Linked DNA regions of Homo sapiens. The protein of the gene in region 4 purifies or fractionates together with the protein of the main gene of each other region. This does not show direct contact. Each region holds a gene or a part of one and is shown on either strand. Other genes may lie near its edges. The genes, in order: VAMP4, STX6, NAPA and VTI1B.

What was found.
Region 1: the proteins of VTI1B (region 4) and VAMP4 purify together in Homo sapiens (affinity purification with mass spectrometry; 5 studies listed by BioGRID and IntAct, with this or other methods). This does not show direct contact.
Region 2: the proteins of VTI1B (region 4) and STX6 purify together in Homo sapiens (affinity purification with mass spectrometry; 5 studies listed by BioGRID and IntAct, with this or other methods). This does not show direct contact.
Region 3: the proteins of VTI1B (region 4) and NAPA purify together in Homo sapiens (affinity purification with mass spectrometry; 5 studies listed by BioGRID and IntAct, with this or other methods). This does not show direct contact.

What each region holds. Positions count from the first base shown.
Region 1 is NC_000001.11:171,731,613-171,739,710, reverse strand, and holds part of VAMP4 (vesicle-associated membrane protein 4), read left to right. Parts: intron 1-1,247; 5' UTR 1,248-1,296; coding exon 1,297-1,362; intron 1,363-8,098. UniProt on the Homo sapiens protein: Involved in the pathway that functions to remove an inhibitor (probably synaptotagmin-4) of calcium-triggered exocytosis during the maturation of secretory granules.
Region 2 is NC_000001.11:181,019,499-181,028,531, reverse strand, and holds the start of STX6 (syntaxin-6), read left to right. Parts: upstream 1-5,661; 5' UTR 5,662-5,858; coding exon 5,859-5,893; intron 5,894-9,033. UniProt on the Homo sapiens protein: SNARE promoting movement of transport vesicles to target membranes. Targets endosomes to the trans-Golgi network, and may therefore function in retrograde trafficking.
Region 3 is NC_000019.10:47,486,798-47,491,822, reverse strand, and holds the end of NAPA (alpha-soluble NSF attachment protein), read left to right. Parts: intron 1-966; coding exon 967-1,035; intron 1,036-2,061; coding exon 2,062-2,112; intron 2,113-3,433; coding exon 3,434-3,535; 3' UTR 3,536-4,186; downstream 4,187-5,025. UniProt on the Homo sapiens protein: Required for vesicular transport between the endoplasmic reticulum and the Golgi apparatus. Together with GNA12 promotes CDH5 localization to plasma membrane.
Region 4 is NC_000014.9:67,663,814-67,671,911, reverse strand, and holds part of VTI1B (vesicle transport through interaction with t-SNAREs homolog 1B), read left to right. Parts: intron 1-8,098. UniProt on the Homo sapiens protein: V-SNARE that mediates vesicle transport pathways through interactions with t-SNAREs on the target membrane. These interactions are proposed to mediate aspects of the specificity of vesicle trafficking and to promote fusion of the lipid bilayers.

The DNA.
Region 1 (8,098 bases), on a different chromosome or scaffold from region 4:
TCTGCAGCAGATTCTCCAGCTGGGTGTCCTCTAATTCAATTCTGATACTGTATACCTAGAGATAGCATCAGATCCTGCAGGTTGAGGGCTTAATCCTACAAGATTCCCCCCACTTCAGGTGCCAATCACAAGTTCCAGGTTGTTTTACCTGTGTTTCCAACTGACTGGCTATAAATCAGAGTTCCCACAATCCCTTCCTTGTGTTCAGTTTATTTGCTAGAGTGGCTTACAGAATTAAGAGAAACACTTTGTTTACTGGTTTATTATAAAGGATAGAGATCAACAGCCAGATGGAAGAGGTGCATAGGGCAAGGGGTACAGAGCTTCTGTGCCCTCTCCAGGTGTGCCACCGTCCAGGAACTCTCTACTTGTTCAGCTTTTGGGAAGCTCTCTGAACCCTGTCCTTTTTGGGTTTTATGGAGTCTTCCTTAGTAGGCATGATTGATTACATCATTGGCTATTAGAAATCAGTTCAACCTTGAGCCCTCCTCCCCTTCCAGGAAGCTAGGGGGTGGGGCTGTAAAGTCCCAGTCTTCTAATCATGCCTAGGTTTTTCTGTGACCAGCCTCCATCTGGAATCTATCTGGGGGCTAAGCTACCAGTCATCTTATTAGCATACACAAGACACATCACTGCAGCGATTCCAAGGATATGTCAGGAAATGGGGATTAAGACCAAATGAGTATATTTTGTAAATCACGATATCACACCAGTACTTACCAAACTTACCCCTTTTCATGGAGTACCAATGGGACATTATAGTTTGCAGAATATTTTTGCATGTATTATCCAATTTGACCGTCCCAACTCTGCAGAAGCCTGAAAATCAGTATTTTACACCTGAGGAAACTGAATCATTGCTTAAGCAACCAACTAAAAGTGAGAGAAATAGGCATGTTCTCCTGTCTTCTGACTCCAACTTTAAATTGTAAAGCATTTAATGTCTCAGTGAGACGTCCTCCCTCTACTCTCTGCTCTTTCATTTTATAAAAATCTTAAATCACTCATATCCTACACATGTTCTCTTAGGGCAATTACATCCATTTTCTCATAATTTTAACTATTTCTTAGGTGTTGAGGTCTAGCATGGAGGCCCCAGTCACTGGAGTGGAACAAGTGAGAGGGCAGGAATTGAAGTCAGAAAAATGAGGGAGTCCCTGTCATACAGGGTTTCATGTACACTGTTTTAAGTACATTAGCTTATGCCCCAAAGTCTCAAATCTGATGAAATTTATTTTCTCTTTAAGGTGGTGACTATCCTGTTGAGAAGCAAAAGATACTTTGCAAGTAAAAAATATGCCTCCCAAGTTTAAGCGCCACCTCAATGATGATGATGTCACAGGTTCTGTGAAAAGTGAAAGGGTAAGTTCGGAATCTTAAGCTTTAAAAACAAAAGATTCAAAATATGTTTTCATTCCCTTTGTGAATAATAGAAGAAAAACCATCCGGGCGTGGTTGCTCATGCCTGCAATCGCCGCACTTGGGACGCTGAAGCAGAATAGCTTGAGCCCAGAAGTTCAAGACTGTCTTGGACAACCCAGGGAGACCCTGTCTCTATAAATAATTTTTAAAAAATTAATGGGGCATGGTAGCACATGCCTATGGTTCCAGCTATTCAAGAGGCTAAGGCAGGAGGATCACCTGAGCCTGGGAGATGAAGGCTGTGGTGAACTGTGATCTGCACTCCAGCCTGAGCAACAGAGCAAGACCCTGTCTCAAAAATTAATTAACTAATAATAATAACAACAGAAAAATCAAAAGCTTATGACTATATTCTAATCCTAATTGTTTTCTTCATAGCAAATGTATTTAAAAACATGTTACTTAGATTGGTGACAACTGAATTCTACTTCCATTATTGATCAAATCATTATTCTCATAGCTTCTTTCTAGTTTTTGAAAGGGAGTTTTATACAAATACACAATATCTTATTCAGAACTTTGAATGTATTTGGAATTTTTCAGATTTTAGAAAGTTAAGAACATATTATGTAACAGCATTTTTGGGGCCTGGACCAGTGCCTCCAAAAATATTAATATTTCTCAGTGAAGTCTATATTTAGTTATATCTAACTAACTATGTAAATAAAGTGTGTAAATAAACTAGCTAACATCAGTTCAGGTCAAATTTTCCTCCAAAACTTTTTGATTTTCAGAAGCTTTTAGATTTTGGAATTGCAAATAAAGGTCCCCAGACCTGTAATTATCTTATGTTCCAGAGTATCTTTTATATAATGCTTCAATTTCTAGTTTATTCCAGAACATTCTATGCAAATATATATAAATCTAGAAATTATGCCGCATTTAAAAGACAACATTTTATATGAATGTTGTAGGCAGATTACTTTTAGAATAAGTACTCAATACATATTTATTGGGGGAAATAATTCACGTTCTTATTTTTTTAATGCACCATTCTGAAGCCCTCCTTCCTTTCCTTCTTGTCTTGATTCATTCAACAAATATGTATTGACCACCTCCTATGTGCTAGGCACTGGGCTAAAAATTGGAAGACATAGTCTGTGCCCTTGCAAAGCTTTTAGTCTGCTTTGTTTTACATGCTCTTTTTGGACAACCTCAGAACTTCATATTATCCACTCTGTCCACCATCTTATGACTTTTAGTCATAAGTTTCTTTTAGTACAACACAGGAAACATTTTCTTCCCCTTATTCTAACCCTTTGTACAGCTTTTGCGGTTTTGTGTGTTTCTGATGGTTTGTTTTTATTTTTTGAGACCAGGGTCTCGCTCTGTCATTGAGGCTGAAGTGCAGTGGTGCAATCACAGCTCACTGCAGCCTCCACCTTTTGGGCCCAAGCTATCCTCCCACCCCAGCCTCCTGAGTAGCAAAGACTACAGGTGCATGATATCATGCCCAGCTAGTTTTTGTTTTTCTCGTAAAGATGGGGTTTTGCCGTGTTGCCCAGGCTGGTCTCAAATTCCTGAGCTCAAGTAATCCACCTGCCTTGGCCTCCCAAAGTGCTGGGATTACAGACATTTGACACTGCACTCGGCCTGTTTTGTTTTGTTTTGTTTTGTTTTGTTTTGTTTTGTTTTGTTTTTTAATGGGGAAATAGAATCCACCAATAGATTAATTGCTAGCAAGCTTTTACTAATAAACTTTAAGGAGTCACCAATGATTTCCATGTTGCCAAATCCAGTTACTCCTTCTTTGCCATAATTTCAACTGCTTACTAGCATTTGGTGCAGTTTCAACCATTTTGGTCACCTATCTTTTCCTCCATGCCATGGTGAAACTCTTAGTGTCTGCTTGAGCTAGTTCCCCATGCAAGGAATTGAGAAATGCCTTGAAATATACCAAGTCTGGGTGAACCCGGAAGGCTCTGGCCGAGAGAAGGCAGAGGATGATCAGGGATTGAGAAATCACTCAGGGATAATCCAGGGTCTCTTTCTTTAATGTAATATCTTTCAAGATAAACCTCCAAGAAAAAGTGATTCAGAAAATTTGATATACCTGTGCTGGAATTCCATACACTGAAGATTTACTATCAAAAGCATGTCTTGGCCAGGCGTGGTGGCTCGCGCCTGTAATCCCAGCACTTTGGGAGGCCGAGGCGGGCAGATCACTTGAGGTCAGGAATTCAAGACCAGTCTGGCCAACATAGTGAAACCCCATCTCTAGCAGAAGTACAAAAATTAGCCAGGTGCGGTGGTGCACACCTGTAATCCCAGCTACCTGGGAGGCTGAGGCAGGAGAATTGCTTGAATCTGGGAGGCAGAGGTTGCAGTGAGCCGAGATTGTGCCATTGCACTCCAGCTTGGGTGACAGAGTGAAATTCCATCTCAGAAAGAAAAAAAAAGCATGTCTTTACAAAGCAGAAGGTTTGGCGAAATACTAAACCCATTCAGAGAATAAATGTCAATTTGTTAAAGTAAATGATACCAATTGTGAACCTATAAAGGAACCCAGTGTAAAACAACACAGACTTGATATGCATCCAGTAAAAGCTGACTGAAAGCTCCTGATGAATATTCAGTGATCAGCGTGCACAAAGCATGCTGAAATATTTTTTAAATCATCGGTTAGAAGAATCTGAGCCTCTTTCCTATTGCCCCAAGGAAATCTTTAGTCACTTACCCAGAGATGCTTGCAAAGCATTAATATCCTGGAAGATGATCAATAAATGCTGACAGTTGATTGACTGATATCTGAGATATGTCAGGTAAATACCTCAGTCCTGGACAGAGAGCCCCTAAGTCACATCTGCCTTTGTGTAAGATGAAGACTGAAGTATGGAAATGTATGTAGTAAAATCACCTCTCGGAACTTGTTTGTAATTCATACAATCTATGTCAATTTTGAAAAATGTATGTAAAGCAGAGAAGGTTGTAGCCAAATTCAATGTATAGTATGCAAGAGTATATTATTTAATAATTTTTAATTGATGCAAATCCCATTAATTTTATAGTTTTATTTTTACATGATTTTAAACTGAAACTATTTATATTTCCTAAGTTCCCCTGTGTTTCTTTCTCACAATCACTGCTGAACGTAAATTTGTTGTTCACTTAATGGAATCACTGTTAAGGACACAGTCACTTGAATATGATTGCTTTTTAAAAATCAAGTCCAGGCGTGATATACTAGGATCACAGTTTCATGGCATGTTGGTCATAATCCTGAGAAAATAGTGACAAAATTATTATTTGTAGATATTAAATACCAGTTTAATAATATGTGTGGAAATCAGATTAAATAGTACATAAAGCCCACCCTAATAACAAGGGCAGGAAAAATTACTTCAAGAAAAACAATAGTAAACCTTAAATTAAAAATAATACAAATAAATAAGCTTTATGAATACATTTTTAAATTTAAAATGTATTGTCTCAATAAATTCCACTGCTGAGACTGTAATTGTATCACTTTCTCCTTATATTCTTCATTGATTATTAGTATATTAGACACCAGAACTGAATAAAATTGACTGTTTCAAGAGAACTCCTTTTTGATGTTTATTATATTATGAAGTTTGATAACTGATTGGTTAGAATAATATATAAATTACTTTTAAAATCTTTTAAAAGTTTTGTTCCTCTTTCCTATTATACTTTTTTGGTAATAGCTTTATTGAGATAAAAGTCACGTACCATACAATTCACCCACTTAAAGTGTACAATTCAGTGAGTTTTATTATATTCACAGAGTTGTGCAACAATCACCACAATCAATTTTAGGATATTTTCATTAGCCCAAAAAGAAATGCTGTGCCCTTTTGCAGTCATCTCCCATTTTCTTTATCCCCTCAGCCTCTAAGCAACTGCACTCCTATAGATTTGTCTATTCTGGACGTTTTCTGTAAATGGAATCATATAACATATAGCCTTTTGTGACTGGCTTCTTTGACTTAGCATAATGTTTTTAAGATTCCTCAACGTTATAGTGCATATCAGTGCTTCATTTTTTTTTTTTTTTTTTTTTGAGACGGAGTCTCCCTCTGTTGCCCAGGCTGGAGTCCAATGGTGCGATCTCGGCTCACTGCAACCTCCACCTCCTGGGTTCAAGTGATTTTCGTGCCTCAGCCTCCCAAGTAGCTGGGATTACAGGCGTACACCACCACGCCCAGCTAATTTTTGTATTTTTAGTAGAGATGGGGTTCCACCATGTTGGCCAGGCTAGTCTCGAACTCCTGACCTCAGGTGATTCACCCACCTCGGCCTCCCAAAGTGCTGGGAGATCTTCATTCCTTTTTATTGCTAATAATATTCCCTTATATTGATATAACACATTTGGTTTGCCCATTTATCAGTTCATAGATGTTTGGGTTTTTTTCTACTTTTGGCTATTTTAAATACTACTGCTATGAGCATTAGCATACCAGTTTTTGTTTGAGCATGTTTTTATTTCTCTTTGGTGTATACCTAAAGGTAGAATTGCTGAGTATTGTAGTAACTCTCTGTTCAGCCTTCTGAAGAACTGCCCAGCTGTTTTCCAAAGTGGTTGTACAATTTTTACATTCTCACCGGCAATGTATGATGATTCTAATTTCTCCACATCCTCACCAACACTTAATATTATCTGCCTAGTGGGTATGAAATATTATCTCATTGTGTCCTATTATTCTTTTTTGACACTGTATCCCTAGCACTTGTGTTTATTCAATTAATATATGAAAAAGCATTGGTTTTCATGTGTGTTTCTCAGTGTACAATTATAGTAAACATATCTTTAGTATCATTATCCTCTAAACCAAATAAATTATTACTATTACTATTATCATTATTATTTTGAGACAGGGTCTGGCTTTGTCACCCAGGCTGGAATGCAGTGGCACGATCAGGGTTCTGCAGCCTCCTCCTGGGCTCAAGCAATCCCCCCAAGTAGCCTTCAGAGTAGCTGGTATTACAGGCATACACCACCACGCCTAATTTTTTTTTTTTTTTTTTTTTTTTTTGTAGAGATGGGGTTTCACCGTATTGCCCAGGCTGGTTTCGAACTCCGGGGCTCAAGTGATCCTCCCTCCTCATCTTCCCAAAGTGCCAGGGTTACAGGCGTGAGCCACCATGCCCGGCCATAAACCAAATACATTATATTATAAATGTAATGCTTGTCTGTTACTTGTTAGCTAGAATATTACTCAAGAAATATTTATTTAAAAAATGACCTAATGCATTTCCTTGAATATTAATTGGTTTTGAACATTTCATGTGGTCATTGGCCATTTCTTCTATTGGGAATTATCTATTTCTATTCTTTGTTTTTCTATAATGTCTCTTTTTCTTACTAGTTTGTCAAAGCTTTTTATATAATACAGACATCAGGTCTTTTGTCTTAAAGGATACTGCAGATGTTTTTTCCCAGTCTGTTGCTTGTTTTTTAACCTTGTTTTTGATGTCTTATGTTCAAGTTTTAAATTTTTATATAATCAAATATGTTAATCTTTTTCTTTCAGACTTCTGGAGTTGTGTGTTGTTTAGGAATAACTTACCCATCTTAAGAGTTAACTATTTATATATTTTCAATCTTTGTGATTTCATAACAAAATATGTCTAAGGTCCCATTTTCCTTTAAGTACTGCTGTGGCCATACTCTTCAGATTTTGACCTGTGATCTTCCCAGTGTCTTTCATTTCAAAATAGTCTAATCACCTTTATTTACATTTAACATAAAAGTTAATGAGAAGGATGTTTTTTGTTTTTTGTGAGGTTTTTTGCTACAGGGTCTCCTTTTGTCACCCAGGTTGGAGTGCAGTGGCATGATCATAGCTCACTCTAACCTCAAATTCCTGGGCTTAAAAGATCCTCCCATATCAGCCTGCTGAATAGCTAGGACTACAGGCATGAGCCACCATGCCTGGCTAATTAAATTTTTTTTTTTTTTTTTTTTTTCCCATAGAGACACGGTCTTGCTATGTTGCCAGTGCTGGTCTTGAACTCCTGGGCTCAAGTGATCCCCCCACTTTGGCCTCCCAAAGTGCTGGGATTACAGGTGTGAGCCACTGCACCCAGCTGAGAAGAGTATTTTAAAACTTCCTTTTTCCATCGCATTATGGTCAGAGAATATGACTTGTGTAATTTCTATTTTTTGGAATTTATTAAATGTCCTTTGTGGCTTACCCATAAAGGAAAATAAAATAAAATTTGCTGTCTAGTTTCAAAGTTCTAGATTTTTTTGTGTGTTTGGCTTCTCCATCTCTGAAGGGTATGTTAAATCCTCCCTATGATTTTGATGTAACTGTTTCTCATAATTTGCGCAGCTTCTGTAAGATACTTTAAGCTATATTATTAGGTATTTAAACATTCGTTGCTATTAAATCTTCTTGATGGATTGTATATTTTATTATTGTAAAATCATCTTATTTGATTGTTTAATACTTTGTCCTAAAATTCCTCTTTATATTGCTAACTGTAACATTCTTTTTGTTAGAATTTGCTGATGTTTCTTTTCTACCCCTGCTTTTCCCCATCCTTTATTTGGTATTTGTTTTAGGTGAATTTCTTGCAAACAGATATTGGCTAGAATTTTTTTGAACCCTAATCACATATAGTTTTTGTTATTAAATAGGGACATTCAAACCAGTCACATTTATTGTGAATAACTAATACACTTGGACTTTTTCTGTGCCAGCCATCTAGT
Region 2 (9,033 bases), on a different chromosome or scaffold from region 4:
CTCAAGCCATTCCTATGTCATTACATACTTTTAAACAACATTTCTAATGACCACCAAATGGATGTTCCACAAATTCTCCATCATTCCTTAGTGCTGAATATGTAAATTGACTGGAATTCCTCCTTGTTTATTTTAAATCAGTGTGTAGAGGGTGACAGTGGTGGAGGTGTTGGTAACAAACAGGAAGAGGAAATAAATCATGGCCAGTGTGTTTTGGATATGTGTATGGATATTTTCTGTGGTTGGAGGTAGGAAACATAGACAGTCATAGCCAGATCAATGGAACTTAACATAAGTGGAATGTTCTGGAATATGTACATGTATATCAGGGTTTCTAAAAGGTTGGATAATGATGAAGAGTATGATATCCTATATCTATGTTAACACTTTTCTCCCTTTCTTTACCTTGTTTCAAGAAGGATTTAGGGTGAACTCAACAAAAACAAAACAACTCAATCAAAAATGGGCAAAGGACTTGAATAGACATTTCTCCCCACCCCCCAAAAAAGATATACAAATGGCCAATAAGCACACGAATAGGTGCTTAACATCACTAATTATTAAAGAAATGTGAATCAAAACCATAATGAGATACCACCTCACACCTATTAGTACAACTGCTATAAGGGAAAAGAAAACCCAGAAAATAACAAGTGTTGATGAAGATATGAAGAAATTGGAATGCGTGTGTCTTTTAGCAGGAATGTAAAATGGAAAACAATATGACTGTTCTTCAAAAAAATTTAAAATAGAATTACCATATCCAGCAGTTCCACTTCTGGGTATATATCCAAAATAATGGAAAGCAGGGTCTCAAAGAGATATTTGTACACCAGCGTTCATAGCAGCATTATTCATTATAGCCAAAAGATGAAAGAAAGCCAAGTGTCGTCCACTGATGGATGAATGGACAAGCACAATGTGGTATATATACAATGGAATATTAGGCTTACAAAGGAAGGAAATTCTGCAATATGTAGAATGAATGAATGAACCTTGAAGATATCATGCTAACTGAAAGAAGCAAATCATAAAAAGACAGATCCTGTATGATTCCACTTATGTGAGGTACCCAGAGTAGTAAAATTCATAGAGACACACAGTAGAATGGTGGTTGCCAGAGATTGTTGGGGGAGAATGGGGAGTTGTTTAATGGGTATAGAGTTTCAGTTCTGCAAGATGAAAAGAGTTCTGGACATTGGTTGCACAACAAGGCAAATATATTTAACACTACTGAATTGTACACTTAAATATGGTTAAGATGGTAAATTTTATGTTATGTGTATTTTACCACAATTAAATTTTTTTTTTTTTTTGAGATGGAGTCTCGCTCTGTCGCCAGGCTGGAGGGCAGTGGCGTGATCTTGGCTCACTGCAACCCCTGCCTCCTGGGTTCAAGTGATTCTCCTGCCTCGGCCTCCCAAGTAGCTGGGACTACAGGCACGCACCACCAAGCCCAGCTAATTTTTGTATTTTTAGTAGAGATGGGGTTTCACCATGTTGGCCAGGATGGTCTCGATCTCTTGACCTTGTGATCTGCCCGCCTTGGCCTCCCAAAGTGCTGGGATTACAGGTGTGAGCCACCATGTCCGGCCTCATAAATTTAAAAAATAAAAAATTTAAAAAATAAAAAATTATTCCCATATATGATCCAGTTGTTCCTTATAACAGGCTAGTGAAGGAGCAGGCTGAATGTCATTATTTCAGAGTAGGGGAGATCCCCTTGTAGGGGTGTCATGGCATTCCCGCAGCTTCCAGGGGCAGGGGGTGGCTACCCACTGCAATCCCTCTCAGGTCTATCCTGGCATCCCCAGTGATATGGTTGGCTCCTTTCTGATCCTCAGCTCATTTGGCTGCCTGTGCCTTATTCTCTGTGTTGCCATCTCCTTATTTCTGCAGAAGATGCATTGCAGGACCCAGTGTGCTCCCTTCCTCATTCACTCTCCTAACTTTGGAGACTCACTCAGGAACCAGAGGTTCTCCTGGCTGCCCACTCAGAACTCTACAGAAAGCTCAGAGTTGGCATGTCAACCTCCCCCAGAAAAATGAACAGAAGTTAAGTCCAATTAAGAGTTTCGGTTTGAGGAATTCTGACAAATGATACTCTCATGTAACACACACTCCGTCAAGATACAGAGCATTTCTAGTACCCAAGAAAGTTTCCCTTCCCAGTCAAACTCTGTCCCCCAAGACAACCACTGTTTTGATTTTTTATTCCCTGAGAAATTTAAATTATTCTTTTGGGTTGGGGGTGGGGTAGGGGTGGGGGTGTGGGAAGAGATGGGTTTTTGCTGAGTATTCTTCCCAACCTATTGTTTATGCCAGGACGTGGGTCCTATTAAATGAAAAAAAAAAAAAAGAAAGAAAGAAAGAACCTCCTTTGTTTCTCCTTGCATTTTAGCCATAGCTTCCCTTTCCTTGTGGGCAGTGGAGGCCAAGGTCTAGTTTGAGAGAGGGTAAAGGAGGGTGACACATTAAAGAAAGGAACACCTACACACACACACACACATACACACATTTTATATCTTGACACTCCACTATCTCCATTGTTGGTGCTTTTTCTAATCCCCTAATTATGGGAACCCAAGCCTCTGTCCTCTATCTTCTATTACTACTTATAAAACTCTGGCCTGTCATATGTGGTCCAATTAAGAAATTCATGGAACAGATAATAAGAGGCCGTGTCAGGCACTTAGGTGATAATAACATTAACATAGTATCCTGTCCCTCCAGGAGTTTACTGTTTGGTGGGGATAAATGACATGCTAACAGCTAATTTACATTCACCCTAAATCAAATCCTCCTCTTGTGTTCTCTTTCTTGATGGTTGGAACCAACACTACCCATTTACAACCCCAGAAGCCTTCCTCCCTCTTCTTTCATCAATTCCCCCATACCCTGAACCAATCAGTCACCAAGTATACTAACTTTGCCTCTAAAGTATGTCTCAAATGCATCACTCTTCTCCACCTTAGTTGTCACAAGCCCAGCTCAGGATACCCTCATCCCTCCTCTGGACCATAACCTCCTAGCCACTGAAGCATCTGTCTCAAATGCCAATCTGACCCTGTCAATTCCCTCAGTCCCCATGGGGAACTGTCCATAGGAAGCGTCCACTATTCTGAACATTACAAACAAGGGCCCTGATAATCTGACCCTGTCCACCTCCAGGCTTAGCTCCTGCTGCCCCCATCCTTTTCCTTCTACTCCAGCAACATGGCCCCCTTCTCCTGGCTGCTTCTAGTCACTGCTTAGGAACCCCCTGCCCCAGCCCCGAAAACACACAAATATACTGGTATCTTGTCGCTGTGTTTCTATGGCAACCTGTGCCCTTCTCTCACTGTGTGTCTCTCCCACCAGTCTGTCTCTCCCACCAGTCTGACAGTTCCTTGAAGGCAAGAACCAAGCCTTGTTCATGCCTGTGTCTCAGTGCTTAGCACACAGTAGGAGCACAACATGTGTCAGGCACTGTTTTAAGCACTTTTCACACATCACCTCATGACACTCTATAAGGAAGCTGTTATTACGGTGTCTATTTCACAGTTGAGGATAGTGAGAGATGAAGCGGCTTGCCTGAGATGCAACAGTCAGGAAGCAGCAGAACTCAAGCAATCAGACTCCAAGGATGGTCTTCAACACCATGCTCACCTACCCCTCAATTTACATGTGCTTGTTGAATGAATGAACGATGACACGTTTTCACCTCCCCAGCTAAGTAAATTAAACAGTTCTCTCCCAATAAACATTAGCAATCACTAGTATTGGACACTGCTTCCTTTCCCCACATCTGCCTTCCATCATTCGCTCCTCCAGGGATTTTGGCTTTCACCCCTCTCTTCTCTCCCCTCCTGAAACCCATTCAGCCCCTCATCATGTCTAGGTGTTTAGTCTTGTTTTCCTTTTGAAACATCTGTCAGATTCACTCCTTCTCTGTTCTCAATCGCTGTCATCCTGGTCTGGACCTCATCCCTTCAGGCCACATGACTTTAGCAGCGTCCTTACTGGTTTTCCTGACTTCAGTAACTTAGTCCTTTGGGATCTTGAGGTTTACACACATTTTTATTTAACCATCACAACAACCCATGAACTAGCTATTATTATTTATGTTTTATAGATGAGGAACTGAATGATAGAGCCAAGGTTTAAACGGGGTTTGTGTTGCTCCAAGGACTGTGCCAGCTCCAGACTGGTGACCTTGGGCAAGTCACTTAACCTCCGAGTCTCAGATTTCTCATTTATAAAATGGGCATGATAGCAGTAATTATCACATTGTAAGAGCAACTGAGATAACACTTAACATCCTGCCTGACACACACACACAGTAAGTGCTCAATGATTTTCAGCAATCAAAGTCCACAATCCCCATCCACAAATTTCATAGCATATCTAGCATATGAGTTGGTTAATGGTTCTGGGCAAAATGTTTTCTCGAATAGCTCTTGAACCACAGTGAGAGGAAGTTGTCATACCTGGCCCCTTCTTTATTCCTCGAAGGTGTGCTCTCCTGGGAAGCACCATATGCTGTATGAAAAATTACTTTACATGGTTATTTGCAGAATGTACAGCAACAGAAAGTACACCCCATCTGGTGGAAAGTGCACAGAATCTGCAGTTCTGCCCTGTCCAGGCTGTGTGACTACAGGAAGTCTTCAAGCCTCTCTGAACTTATTTTCTTATCTACAAAATGAGAAAAATGGATGGTGTGGTGGCTCACGCCCATAATCCCACCACTTTGGGAGGCAGAGGCAGGAGGATCATGTGAGCTCAGGTGTTCAAGGCCAGCCTAGGAAATATACTGAGAGCCCCATCTCTATAAAAAATTTAAAAATTAGCCGGGCGTGGTGGCGCTCACCTGTAGTCCCAGCTACTCGGGAGGCTGAGGCCGGAGGATCGCTTGAGCCCAGGAGGTCAAGGGTGCAGTGAGCTGTGATTGTGCCACTACACTCCAGCCAGGGTGACAGAGAGAGACCCTGCCCCCCAAAAAGGGGGAGGGGGGAATAATACTTTCCCCCAAAGGATACTGAGATGATGCATACACAACCTTTAGCACACTGTCCAACACAAAGCAAGACCTACTTAAAGGATCTGTGTAACATTATAATCAGATACTATGCTTCATTTTAAGTCGAGGACCAGATAGATTTATAAATTACATACTGTCAAAATTAAGTATTAAAAGTAGAGGAAAGGTAAGAGGATTTTGCAAATCAGGTACAACTACAGCTTATCCTGAAAAGCCGACTGCCTAGTTCTGAGGGAACAAGCCACTCCTCACCCTCAAGCTTGAGGAGAGGGCTGTAGAAGCCCGCCCACCTCCACCGCCCCGAGGGCTCCGCCTCCAGGGCCGAGGGACGCAGGCGTAAGCCCCGCCCACTGGGGGGGGGGGGAGAGAGAGAGAGAGAGAGAGAGAGAGAGAGAGAGAGAGAGGAGAGAGAGGAGAGAGAGGAGAGAGAGGAGAGAGAGGAGAGAGAGGAGAGAGAGGAGAGAGAGAGAGAGAGAGAGATATATGCCCTGGTCACGTGAGCGGGGTGCGGAAGTCGTGTTTCAGGCGGCGTTCGTGATTGGCCGCGGCCGAGGGTCCCGGGGGTGGGGTCAGGCCCTCCGACGCTTCGGGAGGAGCCGGGACTGGAGGCTGCCGAGGGGGCCGGCGCCCGAGTCCGGGATTCGGCCAGTGGTGCTGAGCGAGTGCTGGACCAGCGGCCGTCCTGTGCACCTGGCCTGTGCGCGTGCCCGCTGCTCGGCTTCACCCAGACTAAGGCGCGGGCAGCTGCGGGAACAGGCGGGGTGGGCGGAGGGAGACCGGGAGGCACGGGCGCCCTGTGCGCGGAGGAGGTGAAGGCGGCCGGGGCCGGGACGCCATGTCCATGGAGGACCCCTTCTTTGTGGTGAAAGGGTGAGTGTCGGCCGAGCGCTCCACCGGAGGAAGAGGTGGCGGTGCTGCCTGCCCGCACCTCCTAGGTCTTCTCGCAGTGGGGGGAGGGGAGGCAAGTTGGAGCTGGGGAGGGGGAACAGTGGAGACGGCTTAGTCTTGAGGGCCATGACCAAGCGTCAAGAGACGTTCCCTCCATCCCTACCTGGACCGTGAAGCCACTGTCCCCAGCCAAGCCCCTGGTGGTGGGGGGCCCTTTTTGGCCTGTGTGCTGCGGTACAATTTATTTGGGGGCCGAGGGGCTCAGCAGCTCTGCAGGTGGGGAAGGAGACACGCGGGTCCTGGCGCACACTGGCCGTCTAGTCGAGCATGGGATCTTGCTTCGAAGGAGCGAAAACAGCATCTGGGCAGGAAAAGGGAAATGGCCCTCCTGAGCTTTGTAGTTCGCGTTGACGGGGGTGAGCTCCATTGTCCATTGAGTTTGGAGCGCTTGTCCGCAGACTGGCGAGACCACAACAAGCCCAGAGGCGTCTGAGCACGTTTGCTGGGAGGGAGGCGGGGGCGGGGGCCGTTCTGGGAGGCTGGGGAGCAGGGCACCGGAAGACAATTCAATGGGGGAGTTTTTACTGAGTAATGTGAGGAGAGGAAAGCAGTCGTTCATACTCAGTGATGATTTGGAAGGAAAACAAAATGAAACAAGCCAAACCAAACTTTCCTCAGCTTTCTATTAGCAACCGGAATTTTCTCACAGTGCTAAAGGAAATGAGTGTTGCTTGTTAACTCCTTGATTTCATCCAGGTTGTTTGACAGGTTTCTCCTATTTCTTCTGCCTTTCAGAATAGAAAGGACTGCCTTCTGTTCCCTTACAAGCTATCCTAGCTCATCTTTGATTGCTCGATTGTTTCTTTGGAGATAGAGTCTTCAACTGCACTTTGTAATATCCACTTCGTAGCCATTAAACACATGCAAGAAGATCAATTCTGATGTAACTTTTAGTTTCTTATTAGAAACTTGTCAGTTTTCTGTTTTAAATGTCAAACATGAAAAATCTGAAAACTGCAAAGTTCCCAGGTCAGTACTGATCACCACAGAATGTCCCTTGCTTTTTACTAGTTGCTGCTAGCTTCCTATTTCTGTAGTGGTGCAAGCTGGCCGTTGTATAGTCAAGTGTTGTAGAAAATTTAAATGGTATTTTAGGTGAAATACTTTATCGATTATGCAGTAAAATACATTTATACTACTTCTTAATATTTCCCTGGAAAGTTTTTTTTCTTCACCTTACTCTAATTTAGATGGGAAAATGCTGAGTTGTAAATTTACTGGTAATATGTGTATCCCTACCTAGAAAATGTGATATTTATTAGAAGGATTGATTTAGGGGTTAATTTTTAAAATAGATGTTTTTTCCTTGATTGAAAGTTCTTAATGCTTAGGTTGGCAAAGGTTATCTCTGGCGGTAGAGATCAGAGATGATCAGAAATTTTTTGTTTGACTTTTTATGGAATTTGTCAAAAGCCTAAATTCTTCTGTCTTGGCATTTTTTTTTCTTGATGGTATCCTATACAGTCTACTAATGCTTGCTCACTGATTAAATATCACTACTTTATCGGAACATTGGCTTGGAGGGAGTTTTGATTGATTTTTACATCATTTTAGCTCCTATCTTTAAGGTTCTTGAAGGAAAAGAGATTCTCAGTTCCTTCTGCTGTGGAAAGGTAAAGTCACCCATGAAGGTGTATCCAGATTTTTGGGGAGTCATGTACCTGTGTTTATTAAAAGTATCAAAAATGCATTACACAGCATGCAAAAATTAAAGGTGCCTAAATTATGGCCCTTAGCCTAGGAGCTTCTGGTCTAATCTGAGAAACAAATTACCCCAAAATTAAATAGAAATGACAGGTGGCAAATGAATGAGTGTTGAAGTGAATGCTACAGATAAGTGCCTCAGGAGTTCAGAGAAAGGTAACTCCTTGGGAATTGTTAGGATTAGGAGAGCTTTTGGAGGCAGTAGTGTATCTTGAATTAGGTTTTGAAGATGGGCAGAATTTAGATAATCAGGCCTGTCTCTCTTACCTGGATGCTTATCAGAGTCTTTTTAATTGTTCTTCCTGCTTCTGGTCTCATTTCCTCTTTCAGCTGTCCTGGGATCTATTGGATCATTGCTGTCCAATAGAAGTATAATGCCAGCCATGTATGTCATTTTACATTTTCTAGTAGCCGCAGTAAAATATAAAGGAACAGGTGAAATTAATTCTAATGTAATCTCTAATACATTCAAAATATTCAACATGTGATTAAAGATTATTGATGAGATATTTTACTTTTGTACTAAGTCTTCTAAATCTGATACATATTTTACACTTACTGCACATTTAAATTTGGACATTAAATTTTCATCAGAAATAATTGATCTGTATTTAAAGTTCATTAAATACATTTTTTTTTTTTGAGACAGAGTCTTGTTCTGTTGCCCAGACTGGAGTGCAGTGGTGCAATCACGGCTCACTGCAACCTCTGCCTCCCAGGTTCAAGCGATTCTTGCACCTCAGCCTCCTGAGTAGCTGGGACTATAGGTGTGTACCACCTCACCTGGCTAATTTTTGTATTTTTAGGACTATGGGCAGGGCACCCGCCACCACGCCCGGCTAATTTTTTGTATTTTTTAGTAGAGACGGGGTTTCACCATGTTAGCCAGGATGGTCTCGATCTCCTGACCTTGTGATCCACCTGTCTCGGCCTCCCAAAGTGCTGTGATTACAGGCGTGAGCCACCGCGCCCGGCCTACATACTCTTTAATTGTTCCAAACATACATAAAAGGTTTTTGATAACTGAATTGCTATCAGTTACCAAGTTTACATTAATTAAAATTTAATTTCTGTCACACTAGCCACATTTCCAGTCAGTAGTTGTATGTGGCTTCCGTGTTGGACAGCACAGTGTAAGCTTTTCTAGAGTCCTAGACAGGTGTACCCTACTTAATATTATTCAGTGGCTGCTGCTGGCCTGCAGAATAAAGTGCCAACACTTCCTGACCTCACTGATCTAGCCTCTGCTCTCCCTTAGCCTTAGTACTCCAGCAGTGCCAGACTCAATACAGTGACTGTGATTGCTGTACTGGATGCTCTTACTCTACATGCACCCACACTGCCTGATTCACCCACGC
Region 3 (5,025 bases), on a different chromosome or scaffold from region 4:
AGGCTTTTGCGGGTCCAGCTCCTGCCTCACTTAGTGCTCTTTCCTTCATGGGTGCACTTTTTGAATCCTCACTGCACCCCATTAAAGTCAGCACCATTGTCACCGCGTCTTATGGGTGAAGATGGTGAGGCTGGGACGAGAGTCCCTTGTTTGAGGCCACATGACTAGGGACCTGCAGCCCCAGTGTTCCAGATCTTTGTGACTCCTGCTGTCGTGGCTTTAGCTGTAGCTCACACATGCCCACCTATTTTCAGGACACTTGGCAAAAGAGGGGCCAAAGAGGGCAGTGGGAGGGGGCGTGGCCAGCGGGAAGGAGCTGGAGGGTTGGCGCTAGATTTTGCTTGGCCGGAGTTTTTTTACCATTGCCTGGCAGAAGCACGGAGTCCAGGATTTCCTGGTGTCCCTGGCTCACGGCCTGGGGTGGTGGCCCCACACACCCCACACACACACACCCCACAGAGCCCTGCCCTGCTGTGGGCACCGGTGGTGGGCAAAAGCTTGGGCTTTGTCAGACCAGGTTCCCATTCCCACCCCATGTCTCACCGTGCCCTGGGCAGGTCACTGCCCCTCTCTGGATCTGTTTCCTCACTTTGAAAAGGGGGCTCACCGTCATTTGACCCTCTCAGGGTCCTCAAGAAGCACCAGCCCCAGGCCTGGCATGGAGGATGTGCTCATTTGTCCCCTGCCCCAGCTGAGCCAGGTGGGAGGAGGCAGTGGGTGCCTATCTGGGGAACCTTCCCCCTCCACCCACCTCTCCCTGCAGCCATCTCTGCAGCCAGGCTGGTGCTGAGCTCAGCTACGGGAAGGTACTGACAGACACAGAGCCAGGTGACACCTGAGGCTGGGGGAGGGGTGCAAGAGCTGACTCAATATCACCCGACATCCCCAAGTCCCCTCAGCTGCTAGGCCAGTAGCTCTGAGGACCCTCTTGTTACTAACTCATCTTCTCCCTTCCCTGCTGCCCAGCTGGCTGTCCAAAAGTATGAGGAGCTGTTCCCAGCTTTCTCTGATTCCCGGGAATGCAAGTTGATGAAAGTAAGTGCTGGGTGCTCCGGCCTCCCCCTTCCCGAACCTCAGACGGGGGTGGCTGGGGCTCCAGGTGGGACAATCGCCAAGACTTGTCCAGTAGTTCTCAGAGGGTGTCTTTGTTTTGTTTTGTTTTGTTTTGTTTTGTTTGGCCATTTGAGTCTCCATTTTCCAGATGAAGAAAGTACAACTCGGGGAGTGCTGGAGCTCAGGATGGCTAGGTGGACACACACACACACACTACACACACCACACCACACCACACACACCAAACATACACTACACACACCACACCACACACATCACACCACACCACACACACCAAACATACACTACACACACCACACCACACACATCACACCACACCACACACATCACACCACACGCTACACACACACCACCCCACACACCCCACACACACTACACACACACCACACACAGCAAACACATCACACACCACACATATCGCACACACACTACACACACACGACACACCCCTCACACAAAACACATTGCACAGTACACACACCACACGACACACCCCCCCACACACAAAACACACTGCACACACACCACACATGACACACCCCACACACACACATTGCACACACACTACACACACCACACACACCCCACACACACACCGAACACACCACACACGCAACTCAACACACACCAAACACCACACGTGCCCCTACACACCACACCCCAACACACACACCACACACACACACACCTCCACCACACACCACACCCAACACACACACCCCCCATACCCACACACACACACATTCTGTGTGATGTTCTATGTTGGTAAGGTTGCCCTGAGAGCAAGCCGTTTCTGATGAATAGGGCAGCAGGATCGCAACACGCCCGTACCCATCCCCAGTTTAACCCACACGGATTGACCCTCTGAGAGTCCTCAGGAAGCCCCAGCCCCAGGCCTGGCATACAGATAGCGTGTCCTTTCATCTAATCCAGGCCAGACCTCAGGTCAGCATAGGCCCCTGACCCCTCTCTGCCATTTGCTTGCAGAAATTGCTAGAGGCCCACGAGGAGCAGAATGTGGACAGCTACACCGAGTCGGTGAGTGGCCAGCATGGGGGGCCAGGCCCCTTCACGGGGATGGGTCTCCTAGGAAAGCTGCCCTTCTCAGACACGCTCTCCATGACATTCACCCATTTCATCTGGCCCCCAGCCCACTGTGAAGTTCTTTCTCCAGTCACCCCAGAAACCTTACAAGTAGCGCCAAGAGGCGCAGGGAGTGTTCTCCCCATTTTATAGATGGTGGCACTGAGGTTGGGGAGGTCAGGAGGCTCGGCCTTGGCCCCTCAGGGACAGAGCTGGTGTTCAGAGCCACATCTGTCTGCCTCTGAAGACCAGGGTTCCTTGAGTCCCCCAGGTGAGTGTGTGAGACTCACAGTGGGCGCCTTGGGCACCCAGGAGGCACAGACGGGGAGGGAAGGGGTGAGAAGGAGAGTGGAGCTGAGGACATGGGAGAGGTGCCAGCTTCCCTCTGCCTGGTGGAGCCGCCCACGCGGCTCTCTCTCCCTTCCCTTTCTCTGTTCCCAGCATTCCCGGGCTTAGTGGTGTCCGGCTCAGGTCCTGATTCACTCCTCTAATGGCACATGTCAAGCATTTCTCCCTAGGTGCCCCTTGGGAATGGAAGCCCCTAACTGAGGACAGTGAAAATGCCATCCTGTTCCTCCTGCCCCAGACAGTGGGTGGCAACTCAGCCAGGAGCTCAGGGAGGGGATGCCCAGCAGGCCGTGGCTTCTCTCCCCCGTGTCCCATGGCACTCAGGAGTGGCCTTTTCCATATCTCCAGGCCTCAGTTTCCCACCCATTCAGTGAGGATGCTGGACTTTTTTTTTTTTTTTTGAGACGGAGTCTCGCTCTGTCGCCCAGGCTGGAGTGCAGTGGCGTGATCTCGGCTCACTGCAAGCCCCGCCTCCCGGGTTCACGCCATTCTCCTGCCTCAGCCTCCCGAGTAGCTGGGACTACAGGCGCCCACCACCACGCCTGGCTAATTTTTTGTATTTTTAGTAGAGACGGGGTTTCACTGTTAGCCAGGATGGTCTCAATCTCCTGACCTCGTGATCCGCCCGCCTCAGCCTCCCAAAGTGCTGGTATTACAGGCGTGAGCTACTGCGCCCAGCCATGGACCTTTTTTTTTTTTTAAAGCTACAATATCTTTCTCCCCCAAGGGAAATGATGTGCCCAGCATAGTCAAGACAGACAAGAGGGAGCTCCCATGGCTGAGTTGGGGCCTCAAGCCCTCCCTCTACTCCTCCTCAGAGACCAGGGGTGACAGAGACAGATCTTGAAAACCTTGGGACAAGTGCCCTTGGGCTGCAGGGTTGGGAACGGGGGGAGCATGGCCAGCCTATCACCTGGTGTGCCCTCAGGTGAAGGAATACGACTCCATCTCCCGGCTGGACCAGTGGCTCACCACCATGCTGCTGCGCATCAAGAAGACCATCCAGGGCGATGAGGAGGACCTGCGCTAAGCCCCACCCAGCCCCCCAGTGCCCGTCTTCCTGTCCCATCTGCTCAGAGAGAGGTGGGGCCGAGACTTGCTGGAGAGCTTCCCTCCTTTCCCATCTGGGGAGTGCCGCGGGCCACAGTGGGCAGGTGGCACCGGGGGTCAGCATGCAGGGGCGCCAGAGGCCCAGGCTGCTGGCCGGACAGTCACCCTCTGTTCTCGCTACATCCCTTGCCCCCTGTCCATTTATTTAAGCCCCCATAGGTGCCCTTCACCCCCAAAACCAGCTGTACAGAATCTTTGATACAGACCTATTTGCTAGGGGTGCTGCCGGGGATTTGGGGTCAGCATCTGGCCCCCTATCTCCTGACCAGCTGAGTCATGAGGCCGGTTTCTCTCTCTCTCCCACTTTTGTCCCCCAGCCAAGCTCTAAAGCACATGTAGCCGCTGAGACCTGCTGTTTCTGCTGGGGGCAGGCTCCTCTTCCCCCAGCCCCGGGAGCCTCCCCCAGCTTCCTGCAGCCCCGACCTCTCAGGTTAGACCCTGGGCCCTGGAGCTTAGGGGATTCTCCCCACCCCAGCCCCACACCTGCTCCTTCCCTAATGCTTTGAGGTTTTCTTGGTTGGAAGCTGCAGCTGGCCCAAGAAAGAAAATAAAAAACAACACTTTTGCATGAGTCTCTCTTCCTCCTCACCTCTGCTACCCACTCTGCCCCTGGGCCAGTCACCAGTCCCTCTCACACTCCTGGTCCCCCAGACTCTGGGCGAGCTCTTGGGAGGTCAGGCGCATGCATCCTTGAAACACGTGTGGGCTGGGTCAGTTTCTAGGTGGGGGAGACCCAGGGACGGTGGGCCTGGGGAGGAGCTCTGGCTTGGGAGTCCCAGAGCGCCCATCTTGATCTTTCTCTGGGTTCTTGGGGTCCAGGGGCCTTGATTTCCTCAACTGGGATGCACGGTGGTGATGCCACCCCTCAGAGCCAGTGGGAGGGTCGAATGTGACGGTCCTCATGACTGCTTTGGATGAGAATGGGTGGAAGCCCACCGAATCTCCCATGTCCACATTTCTCTGGCAGGAAGGCTGAACGCCCCGGTGACAGTTGTTCCATCTGTCACAGGACGGGGGAGGAAGCGGCTTTGGTGGGCAGAGTCTGAGGCCCGAGTGGGTCTGGGGAGTGGGGGAGGAGATAGCAGGAGCCTTTGCCCAGGAAAGGTGGGCAGAAACCAGCTGCCTCCACCACACTCCACAATGTGCATGTTGGGGGCCCTGTCTGGTACACATGTGCTTTACCCTGCCCCGCGCAGGGCCCCTCGCTACAGAGGAGACAGCTGAAGGAGGCTCAGTGCCCAGGCATGATGGGAAAATGTCAGGAAGTGAGCAGGGGCAGTAATTGCACAGAGGAGGGGCTGCCTAGGAAACCAGGGTGGACTCCTGGGAGAGGGGCTCCAGCCCAGAAAGCCTAGAGAAGTGCAGGTGAGGTTCAAATTCCTTGACACCTGCCCTGCTCCTCTCTCCCCT
Region 4 (8,098 bases):
GAGGGCTCCATCCTCAGAGATTAGATTGTTATCCTGAGAGTGGCTTGGTTGTTGAGAGAGTGGGTTAGTTCAGCCCTCTCTTGCTTGCCTGCTCTCTTGATCTGTTGCCCTTCCATCTTCTGCCATGGGGTGACCCATGGGTAGCAAGAAGGCCCTTGAAAGAATCAGCCCTCTCAGCCTTGGGCTTCCCAGCCTCCAGAACTCTGAGAAATACATTTATTTTCTTTATAAATTACCCAGACTCAGCTATTCTGTTATAGCAACATAAAGCTAAGATAGTTACATTCACCTTTGTTGTCTACCCAGCCTTTTTCTCCATCCTGCAAAGAGGACAATCAGAAATATGTGAATTTCTTTTCTTTTTTCTTTCTTTTTTTTGTTTTTTTGAGATAGAGTCTTGCTCTGTCGCCCAGGCTGGAGTGCAGTGGTACAATCTCAGCTCACTGCAACCTCCACCTCCTGGGTTCAAGTGATTCTCATGCCTCAGCCTTCCGAGTAGCTGGGATTACAGGCGCATGCTACCACACCTAGCCAATTTTTGTATTTTTAGTAGACACGGGGTTTCACCATGTTGGCCAGGCTGGTCTCAAACTCCTGACCTCAAGTGATCTGCCCGCCACGGCCTCCCAAAGTGCTAGGATTACAGGTGTGAGCCACTGCGCCCAACCACAAAATACTCTAAGTTGCTGGTAACAGACATAGTTGTTTAATGGATAAGTAAAGAAAATATATACATATCCCTAGAATTATAATAAGTCCAACAACTTTACCTCTTATTCACTACCTCATTCACACTGCTCAATAAATGTTTGTTGAATAAATTGAATTTATCTAAGCAAACACATGGTGCCTCATCTCTGAATCCTCTTTTTCTAGTTCAGAGACCACATCATAAAGTTTTCAGAGCTTTAATGCCCATCATGAATTATTAGGCACAGCATAATGTACATAATACAGTCCTTGCATGTAGCTTATGCTCTGTAATTGAATTCAGTCATTTTTCAATAAACACTGAGAATTATTATGTATCAGCCACTGTCTAGGCTCTGAGGACTTCCAGAGTTCTTACCTTAAAAAGAAACAAACGGCCGGGCACGGTGGCTCATGCTGGTAGTCCCATCACTTTGGGAGGCCTAGGCGGGCGGATCACAAGGTCACGGATGGAGACCATCCTGGTCAACATGGTGAAACCCCATCTCTACTCAAAATACAAAAATTAGCTGGGTGTGGTGGCATGTGCCTGTAGTCCCAGCTACTCAGGAGGCTGAGGCAGGAGAATCGATTAAACCCAGGGGGCAGAGATTGCAGGCGACAGAGCGAGACTCTATCTCAGAAAAAAAAAAAGGTAACAAACCTTACAACCAAGTGTGTGATTAATCCTAAAATAAAGTTCTCTGAGACCATAAAAAGGGCTGGACTTGAGCATGGGGAAGAGGGGGAAGCTTCAAAAAACTTCAAACTGAATATAAGGGATTGAATGGGAGTTTGCTAGATGGGAAATGCGAAGAGGCAACACAGGAGTAAAACATGGAATACTCCCAACTCTGGAGCTTAGAATGTATGTGGGAAAGTAGTAGTAGAGGGGCAGGTGAAACAGCCAGATTGTGAGGGGATCTCAGTGTCACATTGAGACATTTGGACTTGATATGGAAAGTCAGTAAAGGACGTAAAGCAGTTGATTGATGTGGATTTTCTTTTAGAAGGAGGGCATTAATGGCTAGACAGGACAAGAGAGAGCACAAGAATCTGGGTACAGGGGACTGTGTTAAGAGCCTTTTGGGCAGTCACCTTGCTAACGGGAATTTGTTTGACACAGGTTCTCACTCCTGTCTCCCGTCATCCAGGCTGGAGTGCAGTGGCACCATCACTGCTCACTGCAGCCTTGGCTTCCCGGGCTCAGGTGATCCTCCCACCTCAGCCTCCCGAGTAGCTGGGACCACAGGTGCATGGCACCAGGCCTGGCTAATTTTTTGTATTTTTAGTAAGGGTCTCCCATGTTATCCAGGCTGTTCTCGAATTCCTGGGCTTAAGTGATCCACCCACCTCAGCCTCTTAAAGTGCTGGGGTTACAGGGGTGAGCTACAGTTCCCGGCCCAAGAGTTGGTTTTGAGGCAGAAATTAACCAGCCTCAATGGATATGAGGAGTGAGGGAGAAAGGTTCCAGGGTGTCTGCATTTTTTCACTTGGTCAACTGGGTGAATGATGAACTTAAGTAAGAAACATAAGAGGAGAAGCAGAGTTTGGGTTGTGGATGAGAATATCAAAGGTACCTGTAGAACAGAGATCATGACATAATATAGCCTTACAAAATGTTTCTTCTTCTGCCATTAAAAATAACATACGGGGGCCAGGTGTGGTGGCTCGTGCCTGTAATCCCAACATTTTGGGAGGCTGAGGCAGGAGGATTGCATGAGGCCAAGAGTTGGAGACCAGCCTTGGCAACATGGTGAGACCTATCTCTACAAAAAAAAAAAAGCTGAGTAGTGTGGTGCTGCTCACTTGTAATCCCAGCTGCTCAGGAGGCTGAGGCAGGAGGATCACTTGAGTCTAGCAGTTTGAAGTTTTAGTGAGCTGTCATCACATCATTGCACTCCAACCTGGGTGACAGAGCAAGACTCCGTCTCAAAAAAAAAAAAAAAAATTATGAAGAAGTATGTGAATTGAGAGGCCATATAGTATAATATTTAACAGCAAGAATTCAAGAGCCAGATTGCCTGAGTTTAAATTCACCTTCTAGTAGCAGTGTGACCTTGGACAGGTTACTTTAACCCAATTAGTTTTTCCTGCCAAATGGGGATAAATCATAGTATCTACTTCACAGGGTTTTTGTGAGGAGTAAATGAGTTAATATATGTAAAGTCCTTAGAATACTGCCTGATAATAGAGCTACTAGCCATTTTATTTAAATGAAAATTAAGAATACCAGCCCTGTATACAACTATTCTTACCTTTTTTTTTCCAGAGTACTTATTTTCTGACATATTAGACACTTTCCACATTTATGATATTTACAGTATATTGTTTGTCTTCCTTTCACTAGGACAGTGGTTTCATTGTGGTCCATGAACCAGCTGCATCAGCATCATTTGGGAACTTGTTAGAAATGCAAATTCTCAGGCCCCACCCCAGACCTATTGAATCAGAAAGTTTTAACAAGCAGTGTGTTTTCACAGCCCTCCAGGGGGTTTCTGATGAAGGCTAAGTGTGAAAGCCACTGAGCTAGAATATAAGCTCAATGTTGTCTTTTTTTCACTGTGTTTCCTAAGTACCAGAACAGTGCCTAGCACAGACTAGGTGCTTCATAGATACCTATTGGATGATGGAATGTGTGAATTGTTGGAAAGAAAATATTGATATATGATTGTGATTTATTTCTATTCTGTTGTCCACATTTTCATTACTTTAAAAATGGGTATATTCCACCTATTAAAACAACAAAAACTGTATTTCTCCAAAGTACAGTCTCCATTCACTTTCTGCCTTTGAATGATACTAGAGACAATGTGTCCTGTTTTAGGAAGTTTTTGTGTAACTGTCCATTACCACTTACAATAATTATTAATCCATTTAATATTTCATTAAATACCTATGGCCATAATTTCTACTCTTGGTTTTACAACCTCTGAAGAGGTCTCTCCAATTACCTCAGAGTACTATAATGTGCTATAATTTCTTAATCTAATCAATGTTAAATGCCTGTGGTCATGATTTCTAGTTTTGGTTTTGTCATACCTGAAGACATCTCTCCATATGTCTTAACGTGTATCATAAAAATATTGAAAGTTTTCCATTTTAAATCATTTAGATCAGTATGTATAACACAAGACCCTATTATTTTCAGAGCCAGAAAAAATAGTCACTATGGAGTACTATAATCAGCTGGCCGATAAACACCAATTACTTACAGACTGTAGAATTTTAACTATTCTAACTCCTCATTTTTTTTGTTTGTTTGTTTTTTGTTTTTTGAGATGGAGTGTTGCTCTTTCACCCAGGCTGGAGTGCAGTGGCGCGATCTCGGCTCACTGCAACTTCTGCCTTCCGGGTTCACGCCATTCTTCTGCCTCAGCCTCCCGAGTAGCTGGGACTACAGGCGCCCACCACCACGCCGGGCTAAGTTTTTGTATTTTTAGTAGAGACAGGGTTTCACTGTGTCACCCAGGATGGTCTCGATCTCCTGACCTCGTGATCCGCCCGCCTCGGCCTCCCAAAGTGCAGGGATTACAGGCGTGAGCCACCGCGCCTGGCCTCTAACTCCTCATATTTTCTACTGAATTTGGTTTTTGCTCTTAGGTTCTTCCTAAGTATTTACTTTCAGAAACAATGGTGGTTTCTATTTATTGAGCCCTTATTATATTTGGCACTTGCTAAGTGAATGTTATGTGTATTATTTCTTTTAACCCTTTCAAACAACCCTTACAAGGTCAGTAGTCTTATAGTCCCTATTTGCAGATGAGGAAACAGGTTGGTTGAGAGGGATCTCTGTTGCTTTTAACTCTTGTATGGTGTGGGATCTAGTCAGCTGTCACGGTGTACAAATAAAGGGTGTAAGTCCTCCATTTTGCCACAGTGAGGCACCAAAAGCAAAGTAACCACATATTTATGAGCTGGTGAAACTGAAGTTGTTTCCACAACTTTAAAGGGCCAAGATTAGGCATTCTTGGGCTGGAAATTCAAATCCCCATAAGGAAGAGAGGCTGCCCACCTTGGTCAAACATTAAGGTAGGCTTTCTGTAGTGCTGTTTTTCAGAGCTGTCTGTTTCCATTTTACTCCATGTCAGCATCCACCCAGTTTCCCAAAGGAGACAGAGTTGGTCCCAGAGAGTCCCTCACATGTGACTGATTTGGGCAGGCTTGTGGGGTGGGGGATAGTGGTATTTGAAGTGGTTCATTCTTGTTCATGGTGCCCATTCTCCCCAGGATGCCACCTTGCTGTTTGTAGTTGATTGTAGCATCAATTCTAACTCCCTAAAAAGAGGAAGAGGTTTTTTGTTTTTTCAACAGATTTTACCAGTTGTTAAAGGCTATACTCTGGGAGCACAAAAATGCCCCTCAGTTGTATACAGTATACAGTTGTTTAATATACAGAAAAGCCTTGGACTGGGAGTCAGCACACTTGCATTCCAGAACTAGTGCTGCCATACATTTGCTGTTCCAATGACTGTGGGGCAGGCACTCAGTTTCTCCAGGGTCTAGTGTCCTCAGTGGTAAAGGCAGGAAGTTAGACTAGATGATCGCTGAGGTACATCCTAGCTCTAGCATTCATTGGTTTCATAATTCTGAGCCTAAAGAATTTTTAAAAAGCTGCTATTGATCCCTCTCAGTTGGGTAGAGATCAGTCTCTTGAATTATCTGCCTCCCTGGCTTTATCATCACAAGAAATGATTTCAAAGGTTTCTGTTTTGTTTTGTTTTAAATCTTAGAAGTCCAGAAAGGATCTCATAAATGTAGTGAAGTTCTGTAAAAGTATGTTGTTATAGAGCACTTATAAGAGGAAATGTGTTTTATGAAATCAGGTAGGAAATGGAATATTCTAGCACACAGAAGTTAGTGAAAGGAGAGAGGTTCTGTGGTCTTCTTCTCCCCCTTTCATTTATGTAGTTACATTCCTGGAATCATTCTAGAATTTGCCTCTTGAGAATGCGGATTTTCATACCCATTAACAAAGGAAGAATAAAGGAGGAGAATTTATGACTAAACACAGTTGTAGAAAAGTCTAGGAAAGGAAGGAGCTAGGAAGGGAATGTACATATGTGTACAGTACTGCTTCTTACTGTCTGGCTTGGATCAGGAGTGAGCATGCCTGAGTTTGGAGATGTGCTGACTCAGAGCAGTGATGATGCTCAGCACTTTTGGGACAGCTTATTACAAAATAATACAATACTGCTCCATGGAAGTAGCCGTTTTTGACTGTCGGTATTATTTCAGTACTGGTAGCTAAGAACACATCCCCCTCAGGAACAGTAATAGCTGCCTTGGTGCTCATTTCAGTTACATCATAGATGGTCAAGAGTCATACCATTTGCCATGGTGAACCTTCCTCTACCTTTTTTTAAACAACAAACAGCCATGGGTTTTGTGAGTGGTATGGAGAAAATTGTCTGAAGTATCTTGTGTATATTAAGGGGGTGGCACACAACAATGAATGAGACATAGTAAAGGGTGTGTTGTCATTTGCCCTTTCAGGCAGTAGCCACATCTAAGGAGGTTTATAGTTCTAGGATCTATGGCACAGTAAAAATGACAAAATAAATTTCCATGTTTCAGAGGAACTTGGTCTCAAGTTGAGATTATAGAATATACGCATCCAAAATGATTTATGGTCACTTAAAAAGTGGGATACAAGGACAGGTGTGGTGGCTCACACCTGTAGTCCCAACACTTTGGTAGGCTGAGGTCGAGGATTGCCTGAGCCCAGGAGTCAAGACCAGCTTAGGCAACATAGTGAGGCCCCATCTCTACCAAAAAAAAAATTAGCTGTGTGTGGTAACCTGCACCTGTAGTCTCAGTTACTTGGGAGGATGAGGCAGGAGAATTGCTTGAGCAGGTGGGAGGATTGCTTCAGCCTGGGAGGTCGAGGCTGCAGTGAGCCGTAATCATGCCACTTCACTCCAGCCTGAGTGAGACTGTCTCAAAAAAAAAAAAAAAAAAAGATATAACTGACATTAGATGCTGTTGTGATTAACAAAATGTAAATCCATATAAAGCATTACAGTGACATTACATCTTATGTAGGATTGGGTTCAAAAGTCAGGGCTTGGCCGGGTGCACTAGCTCACACCTGTTATCCCAGCACTTTGGGAGGCCGAGATGGGTGGACCACACAAGGCCAGCCTGGCCAACATGGTTAAACCCCCTCTCTACCAAAAAATAGAAAAATTATCTGGTTGTGGTGGTGCACTCCTGTAACCCCACCACTCAGGAGGCTGAGGCATGAGAATCACTTGAACCCAGGAGTTGGAGTTTGCAGTGAGCTGAGATGACGCCACGGCACTCCAGCCTGGGCAACAGAGTGAGACACAGTCTCAAAAAAAGCCAGGTCTTAAGATGAAAATCAGAGTAGACAAATCATCTAAGAAAATCTCAGGACAGCAACTGAATACCCACATGCCATTTCTCCATAAGCCCGGCTCATCTGTTCTCTTTTGCAGCGGAAAGGCTGAGGTGGATGGATCACTTGAGGTCAGGAGTTTGAGACCAGACTGGCCAACATGGCAAAACCCTGTCTTTATTAAAAATGTAAAAAAATTAGCCGGGCATGGTGGTGGGTGCCTGTAACCCCAGCTGCTCGGGAGGCTGAGGCAAGAGAATCGCTTGAACCTGGGAGGTGGAGGTTGCAGTGAACCGAGACCGAGCCACTGCACTCCAGCCTGGGAGACAGAGCAAGACTCTGTCTCAAGAAAAAAAAAAAAATTGCTCTTTAGTTGGTGGAAGTGCTGCTGGCTTGTGTTTAGGAGTCACATTGAAAAATACATAGCTTTAAAAGGCCATATCCCCATACGTGCAACAGCATAGATGAACCTTGACTTTGTGCTAAGTGAAATAAGCTAAACACAAAGGACAAATATTGTATGATTCCACTTAATGGTGTACCTGGAGTAGTGAAATTCATAGAATGGGGAGGTATTTGATGGGTACGGAATTTCAGTTTGAGAGGATAAACAAGTTCTGGAGAACAGTTAGTGGTGATGGCTCCACAACGGTGTGAATGTACCTAGCCACTAAGCTATACCCTCACAAATGGTCAAAATGGTAAATTTTATATTACATGTATTTTGCCAGCCTAGGTGACCAGTGAGACTCTGTCTTGAAACAAACAAACAAACATTGTAAATGATGGTAACTTTATGGTGATAAGTAGATTATGTGTAGATTTCCAGGGAGAACAGTCATTTGGATGTATAAATTTTTTTAAAAAATCAAGCTCCTCTTAAAAGGAGCTAATTTTTGCTTGTTAGATATAAGGGAATGACCTACTTCCTCATTTTGTAGTCAATGAAGGAGAATGTGAGGTCCCAAAGAAATGAAGGAAATTATCTAAGTTTACATGCTGAGGCAGGCCCGAACCTGGCACCAGAACCTCACCCCGCTGACTAAC